Linked DNA regions of Homo sapiens. The protein of the gene in region 1 purifies or fractionates together with the protein of each later gene. This does not show direct contact. Each region holds a gene or a part of one and is shown on either strand. Other genes may lie near its edges.

Region 1 (4,370 bases):
AAAACAAAACAAAACAAAAACAAAAATTAGCCGGGCATGGTGGTGCACGCCTGTAATTTCAGCTTGTTGGGAGGCTGAGGCAGGAGAATCGCTTGCACCCAGCAGGTGGAGGTTGCAGTGAGCCGAGATCGAGCCACTGCTCTCCAGCCTGGGCAACAGAGACTCCATCCCCTCAAAAAACAAAATAATAAAATAAATACACCCTCCTGCCTGAGGGACCTTGCACTAACTATTCCCTCTGCCTGAAATGCCCCCTTTCTCCAGAAATCTGCACCACTGACTCACTCATTTCCTTCATGTGTTTACTCAAGTCAACTCTGAAGCCTGCTCTGCCTGCCCTATTTAAAACTGCAACCCCATCCCCCTTTCCTGTTTTTCCTTCACACCATTCCCATCTAACATACTACAGAATTTACCAATTTTGTTCATGTCTATCTCCTCCCACTTGACTGTAAGCTCTATGACTATTAATGAAATATCTACTAATTCATTCAATTAATTGAATACTGCTATTAAGTGCCAAGCACTGTGCTAAGCAATGGAGCTACAAGATGACTAAAACTGCTTGTAGGTCTTGTGAGGGAAGAATCCTAATGACAATAAATGTAGCTCATTTAGTCAATGCTTCTCCAAACATCGTGATGGCTAATACTAAAACAGACTCAGTTCTGCATGCTCTATTTCATTTAACCCTCACCGAAACCTACACGGTGACCATCAGCAGCCTCATCGTAAAGCATAAAAAAACAAGATTGCAAGGCTGGGAAATGGCAGTCAGGATCTGAACCACGGTGTTGACAATGAGAACGGTGAGTAACGTCAAATGTGAGAAATATTTAGGACTTAGGCTCACAAAGACTAAGGCAAAGATCGGATGTGGGGGCCGAGGGAGGGAGGAAATGACTCCTGGATTTTGACTGGGGTGGACTAAAGCGCAGTGAGGCCTAAGAGAAGGATGAAGCGCAACGTGGGGCTGGGCTGGAGGTGCCTGCGGACCGGTCAGGGATATGGTCCACCCCTAGGGGAGCGGAGAGGCGGCTCCGCACCCTCCTCCGGTCGCCGCCGCCCCGGTCCAGGAGATGCTGAGAGAAGACACGCACGGGAAGAGCAGGAGGTGGGTTCCGTTCCCCTCCCTCTTGAGTCTCTTCACCAGCAGCTGCAGGAAGGGCGTGGGGGACCGAGAGACAAAGAGCGCGCAGGCACCGCCTCCGTCCGGGCGGCCCCTTTAAGAAGCGCGCGCCAGCTTCCAGCCCGCCTTGTATGCAAATGTAGCGGCGCGGCGGGAGCGCGCGGCTGATACCCGGGACTGGGCTGCGGCGGTTAGTCCTCTCCCGGCCGCCGTCGCCTCCGACATATTGCCCGCAGGAGCTGCGGCGGCGAAGCGGAGAGCACCGGGGGGAGGAGATGGGTGAGCAGAGCGGCTCAGGCTCGGCCTGGCAACGAGCGGGCGCACGGGTTAGGATGGCCAGGCTGCTAATTGCTGCTCCACGCGGACAGGAGCCCGGTGACGGGAGGGGGAGGGGATGCGAGCGCAGACGGGATCCCGCCCCCTCCTGTCGTTTTGCGGGGTGGGGCCTCTGTTGTGGGGGCGGGACATTGGACGGTGGGCGGGGCTTCTAAGACGAAGCCCTGTGGGGGCTTGGGCTTTCGTGAGGACCAGCTCGTCGGGGCTAGAAAGGGGGGCGGGACTTACCAGTGGGCGTGGCTTCAGCGCTAAGGGTGGAGATTCTGGGCAGGGGGCGCTAGTGCAGTCGGCGTTTCTGGGTTGGAGGGGTTACACTGGGGGCGGTGGAGCGGGGAGACTTCCGACTGAGGGAGCCCATTCTGGAGTGGGGCTTCTGGGCTGAGAGGGCTTTTATTGGCTTGTGGGCGGGGTTTCTGGGCTGACAGTTGTGTGTAGGCGGAGCTTCTGGGCTGAGGGGCTTTATGTGGGTGCAGAGCTTCTAAAGAGAGGAGAGTGGGTGTGGGCAGAGCTTCTGGACTGGACTAAGGGTGTTTGTGTGGGATTTTCTAAGCCAAGTATAACAGCGTATGAACAGAGCTTCTGGTCTGGGGGTTTATGGAGGGCAGAGCTCTTCGCCAGGTACTTTTTAGAGACTTGTGGAGGTTTATAATTTTGGGCATACATCCAAGCCCAAAATTGGCTCCGAAGTGTGGGAAACGCTTCCGAGCTGAGATGCTACGGCGTGGGGTGTATGTGAATGGAGGCTGCTGTGTTACTGTGAAGAGGTATGAACAGGTTATAACTTTTTAAAAATATGTATATGTATGTATATATATTTTTTAATAGAGACCGGGTTTCGCCATGTTGCCCAGGCTGGTCTCCAACTCCTGGTCTCAAGCGATCCTCCCGCCTCGGCCTCACAAATTGCTGAGATTACAGTCGTGAGCCACCACACCCAGTCAGGTTGTGACTTTTTTAGGTGCTTAGGAGCTTTGTGCAGAACTTTTGTGCGAAGTGGTGCGTGGGAGCTTGGGCTAGACTGCTCAGCCTAGTAGGTCCAATTTTTCAGTCCACAGCCACAGGATTCTCCCAGCCATATCCTTGACCCTTTATTTAGGCCCTGGGTCCTGCCCATGAGATCCCAGAATGCCCTTTGAGCTGAATCATGGGGCCCTGGATGAAAAAGCTGTCCCAAAGTTACCCAGAGTTATAGGCCTCCAGAAACTTATGTCTGAATGGGGCCCAATGTGTACCAGAGTTGAGAGCACACGACCCAGCCACGATACTGTGACATAGTGTAAGCTGAGTTTCCTAATGTGTGAAAAACCTACCTTGCTGGGTTCATTCACTCATCAACATATACTTGCTGGGCACTGAGGTAGGGGATATAGCAGTGAAAAAGATAAGGTAACTGACCTCATTGACCTTTCATTGTAATAGGACAGACAAGCAATAAGCATATTAACAAATGAGTAAGATAATTTCAGAGAGTGAATTCTGGTGGAAAAAAAGAATAGAAATTGGAGAGAGAGTGATGGGGAGTTACTTCAAAACTTCAGAAATGGCAGTCCGGGAAAGGCTTTCCAGATAGGATATTATAAGTGCTAGAGGTAGCAATGAGCTTGGCTTGCTGAGGAAAGAAAGATCAAGATGTTTAGAGCATGGGGCGGGTGGTAGAGGGTGGGTGTGAGGTAGAGAATGATAGGGGATGAAGCTGAAGATGTAAGAAGGGGCCAGATCATAGGTCTCAGTGAGGATTAAATGATAAAGTGAGATACTAGGTGACTGGCAGCTGGTATCATTGCTGTTATCCTTGATATATGCCCCCTGGCTTGAGGCTCTATTTTATGTTGAGCCCCACAGGAGGACGAAGAGGTCCCAACAGGACATCTTACTGTCGAAATCCGCTCTGTGAGCCGGGATCCTCGGGGGGCTCTAGTGGAAGCCACACTTCCAGTGCATCGGTGACCAGTGTTCGTTCCCGCACCAGGTAAACCACCTCTCTGTCTCACCCCTCACTGTGGCCTCACAGGGACGATGTGGACAGGGCTCTCTCTGACTGGATTCTAAGATGTGAAATCCTAGATGCCAGTGGGGGCTTAGAGGGGAGTAAGCAGCAGAAAAGATCCAGAGGGAGCTCAGTTGAGGGTGATCACTTGGACAGATGCAGTGGGACATGGTAGAATAAATCCAAAGGCCTGGATTCTAATTACAGTTCTGCTCCAGATTTGCTGATGGCTTGGACAAGTTGCCTCCCTTCTCTGGGCCTCCTTTTCCTCATCTGTAAGATGGACCTAATAATTCTTTCTCTCCTAGGGGGTGTTGGAAGACCTGAATAAGATTAGGGATAGGAAAAGGCTTTGTCGGGTTCCTTTGTCTGACAAGCAGGATTAGGAAGACCCCGTCCTTGCTATGAGCTGCTTTTCTGATCTTATCCCACAATCCTTTGCCTCAGAAGCCCTTCCTGGTAGGATTCTCAGGTCAGCTGCTGATGTTGTTCCCTCCCCACTGTCAGGAGCAGTTCTGGAACAGGCCTCTCCAGCCCTCCTCTGGCCACCCAAACTGTTGTGCCTCTACAGCACTGCAAGATCCCCGAGCTGCCAGTCCAGGCCAGCATTCTGTTTGAGTTGCAGCTCTTCTTCTGCCAGCTCATAGCACTCTTCGTCCACTACATCAACATCTACAAGACAGTGTGGTGGTATCCACCTTCCCACCCACCCTCCCACACCTCCCTGGTAGGTACCCAACAAGGGTGTGTGTGTGTGTGTGTGTGTGTGCGTGTGTGTGTATGTGTGTGTGTGTTTCTTTTGGTTTCAGTTTAGCATATCCTACTAAGCACCACTGTGCACTTGGCTCCATGCTGAACATGGAAGGTGCTGAAGGAACAGGAAACTGATGATTCACTGAATACTCCTAGTGTGTTTAG
Region 2 (3,811 bases), on another chromosome or scaffold:
CTACAAAAAATACAAAAATTAGCCGGGTGTGGTGGTGCATGCCTGTAGTCCCAGCTACTCGGGAGGCCAAGGTGGGAGGATCACCTGAGCCTGGGGAAGTTGAGGCTGCAATGAGCCGAGATCATGCCACTGCACTCCAACCTGGGTGACTGAGCGAGACCATGTCTGATTTTTTAAAATTAATTAATTAATTTATTTATTTATTTTTGAGACAGAGTCTTGCTCTGTCGCCCAGGCTGGAGTGCAGTGGCGCCATCTCGACTCACTGCAAGCTCCGCCTCCCAGGTTCACGCCATTCTCCTGTCTCAGCCTCCCGAGTAGCTGGGACTACAGGCGTCCACCACCACGCCCAGCTAATTTTTTGTATTTTTTAGTAGAGACAGGGTTTCACCGCGTTAGCCAGGATGGTCTCGATCTCCTGACCTTGTGATCCACCTGCCTCGGCCTCCCAAAGTGCTGGGATTACAGGCGTGAGCCACCGCGCCCGGCGATTTTTTTTTTTTTTTTAATGAGATCATTTCATGTGTTTAGGGAGCCTGCCTGCTGTGATCTTCCTTTCTGATGGTTCTGAGGCCACACCACTGGTTCTTCTATTTTCTGCTGCGAGCAGCCTGCTTCCTGGCTCCCCTCTCACGACAGACACGTCTGCAAAGAACTCAGGGTGGGGTTTACAAAGAGCTGGAAGGGAGCAGTGCCTGCAGTTTAAATTCGGAGCCTCCAAATAAAAGCTTCAAGGCTCCCAATAGTGTTGGAAAGACAGAGGAGGTCTCCAGCAGAGAGGGCCCTCCTGGCAGTTCCGGCAATTTGGGCGGCATACGCAATTATGAAGCCAAAGAAAAGCCAAATGGCCAACCTCACTCAGCCTCAAACACCTCACACACTCCCACCCGTGTTCCTGCTAGTGGCAGGTATTTTTAGAGTCCTGAGCTCATGGTGTTAAAGCATCTGCCACATGCCTGAGGGCTGGTAGGGATTCAGACTTCTTCAGAGGCAAAAGGCAAGAGTGAAGACTCCTGGGGGGTGGGGGGAGTGGGGATCAGGAGCCAAGTGGTAATGATATTCCTGGGCTATGCCTGCTGTCTTCCTACTGACCTCCATTCCTCCTGTGGTCTGCTCTCCCTTTCTTCCTGTTCGGAACACCACGGAGAGGTGGAAGAAATGAAAATATTTTCTGTCTCTTGCTTGCAGAAGCAAATCAGTCTTTGAGGACTTATGTTTTTTCTGTGTGATCACAGTCAGACGTTCTCTCTGAAATCCCCTTGGCACATATCTAGGATGCCAGACTGCTTGTAGTTTTAGTGGTTCAGGCCATCACTGCCTTTTGATAATGTGTCTGCTGCTGATAATGATGATGATGACAACCTCAGTGACGAGTGTGGTCTGATGCAGAAAAAGACTGCTTACAGTCTTGCTGGAGAGATGCCAAGAGCACTGACGAGACAATTAGAAAACATAAATCTATTCAAAATGGTATGATGCAGACTCAAAGTGCAACAGAGATTCCTAAGAAAAGAGAATTGAAGGGAAGTTGGCGAAGGTTTGAGGAAGAAGCCTGAGGCGTGAGCTTAACCTTGAAGAATGGGTGAGATTTGGATAGGGCAATGAGGGGGCAGCTGATTCTATAGGGGAGGAGTGGACTAGCATGACCCAAAGTACAGAGGAGGGAATCAACCAGGTGTAGCTGAGTAGTTTGAAACCAGGTTGGGAAGGGTCAAATTATGGCAGACAGAATTCCACATGTGGAATCCATGTGATGCCACATACAGTAGAGGGCTGCAGTCGTTTCCTGAAGAGGTGAATGGCATGCTGATACAAGCAGGGATTGACTAAAGCTAGTCAGAAAGCCAGTATTCAGAGATCGGGCACTGGGGCTCACGCCTGTAATCCCAGCACTTTCAGGGGCTGAGGCAGGTGGATCGGCAGTGATTGGGCCTCCCAACATGCTGGGATTACAGGAGTGAGCCACTATACTCAGACTCCAATTTATTTTTATTTATTTATTTTTTATTTTGAGATGGAGTTTAGCTCTGTTGCCCAGGCTGGAGTGCTGTGGCACCATCTCGGCTCACTGCAAGCTCCGTCTTCCGGGCTCATGCCATTCTCTGGCCTCAGCCTCCCGAGTAGCTGGGACTACAGGCACCTGCCACCACACCCAGCTAATTTTTTTATATTTTTTGGTAGAGACGGGGTTTAACTGTGTTAGCCAGTATGGTCTCGATCTCCTGATCTCGTGATCCGCCCGCCTCAGCCTCCCAAAATGCTGGGATTACAGGCGTGAGCCACTGCGCCCTGGCCTCCAATTTATTTTTAAGTTCACTTTTTTGTTACCTAAGGTCAGGAGTTTGAGACCAGCCTGGCCAACACGGCAAAACCCCATCTCTACTAAAAATACAAAAATTAGCCAGGCGCAGTGGCACACGCCTGTTATCCCAGCTACTTGGGAGGCTGAGGCAGGAGAATCGCTTGAACCTGGGAGGTGGAGGTTGCAGTGAGCTGAGATTGCACCACTGCACTCCAGCCTGGGCAACAGAGCAACAGTCCATCTCAAAAAAAAAAAAAAAAAAAAAAAAAAAGCAAGCAAGCGAGCAGTGTTCAGGAGACCCTGCAATGGAAACATCCACAATCCAAAATACTTTGCTCTAGTCCAGGAGTGAGGAGAGGAGAGGCTGGCCGAGGGCCGAGGGACACAGAAATCAGAATAGAAGAAGGGTTCAATCTGAAGGTCTTGCCAGAGGAACTTGGAAGCTGTGTCAATAGAGGGAGATGACGGGGAGCCTGGACAATGAAAACTGATATTCGGAATGATGACTCTAGGGCCCTGTAAAATCTTCACTCAGCCGACAGATTCAATTATATTTACTAGATTATACTTACTGACTGCTAACTCCAAATAAAGGCTATACTTCGTTTTAAGAGCCATAGCAGTCAATTAGTGGCCATAATCAAATTTTCTTTGATAACTGAGAATTGTATAGGGCCTTGGGACCATCATTCTGAGCATGAATCTCCCTTGTCCAAGACGTTGGATATATAAAGGGAAATAGATTGGGCTGAATGTATATCTCCTGGGAGTTATGTCTTTGCATATGTTACAGATAGCAGCTTTTTCTTCATAATTTGGCCTTTATCCCAAAAGCTGAGATACAGAAGAAAAATCCAGTGAATTAAGTTCCTTTTACATAACCAAAAAGTGAACTTAAAAATAAATTGGAGGCTGGGCATGGTGGCTCACGCCTGTAATCCCAGCACTTTGGGAGGCTCGATCATTTGAGGTCAGGAATTCAAGACTAGCCTGGCCAACATGGTGAAACCCCATCTCTACTAAAAATACAAAAATTAGCTGGGCATGGTGGCGCACGACTGTAATCCCAGCTCCTCAGAAGGCTGAAGTGGTAGAATCTCTTGAACCCAGGATGTGGAGGTTGCAGTGAGCTGAGATCACACCACTGCACTCCAGCCTGGGCGACAGAACAAGACTCTCATCTCAAAATAATAAATAAATAAATAAATAGGGCTTGAAGGTGAGATTTTAATACTAACTTTGTTTTCTTTAAAAAGTTATTCAGGCTAGTGGCTCATGCCTGTAATCCCAGCACATTTTGAGGCCGAGGCAGGAGGATTGCTTGAGGCCAAGAGTTCGAGACTAGCCTAGGCAACATAACAAGATTCTGTCTCTACAAAAAAAAAAAAAAAAAAATATATATATATATATATATATATACACATATATATAACATATATACACACAATATATATAACATATATATGTAATATATATAACATATACACTATATATAACATATATGTAATA

The links.
Region 2: the proteins of TMEM39B (region 1) and RAB33A purify together in Homo sapiens (affinity purification with mass spectrometry; one large-scale study listed by BioGRID and IntAct). This does not show direct contact.

What each region holds. Positions count from the first base shown.
Region 1 is NC_000001.11:32,071,644-32,076,013, forward strand, and holds the start of TMEM39B (transmembrane protein 39B), read left to right. Parts: upstream 1-1,295; 5' UTR 1,296-1,404; coding exon 1,405-1,408; intron 1,409-1,857; exon of another isoform or gene 1,858-2,229; intron 2,230-3,307; coding exon 3,308-3,434; intron 3,435-3,959; coding exon 3,960-4,179; intron 4,180-4,370. UniProt on the Homo sapiens protein: May protect the cells against DNA damage caused by exposure to the cold-warming stress and facilitates tissue damage repair during the recovery phase.
Region 2 is NC_000023.11:130,178,462-130,182,272, forward strand, and holds part of RAB33A (ras-related protein Rab-33A), read left to right. Parts: intron 1-3,811.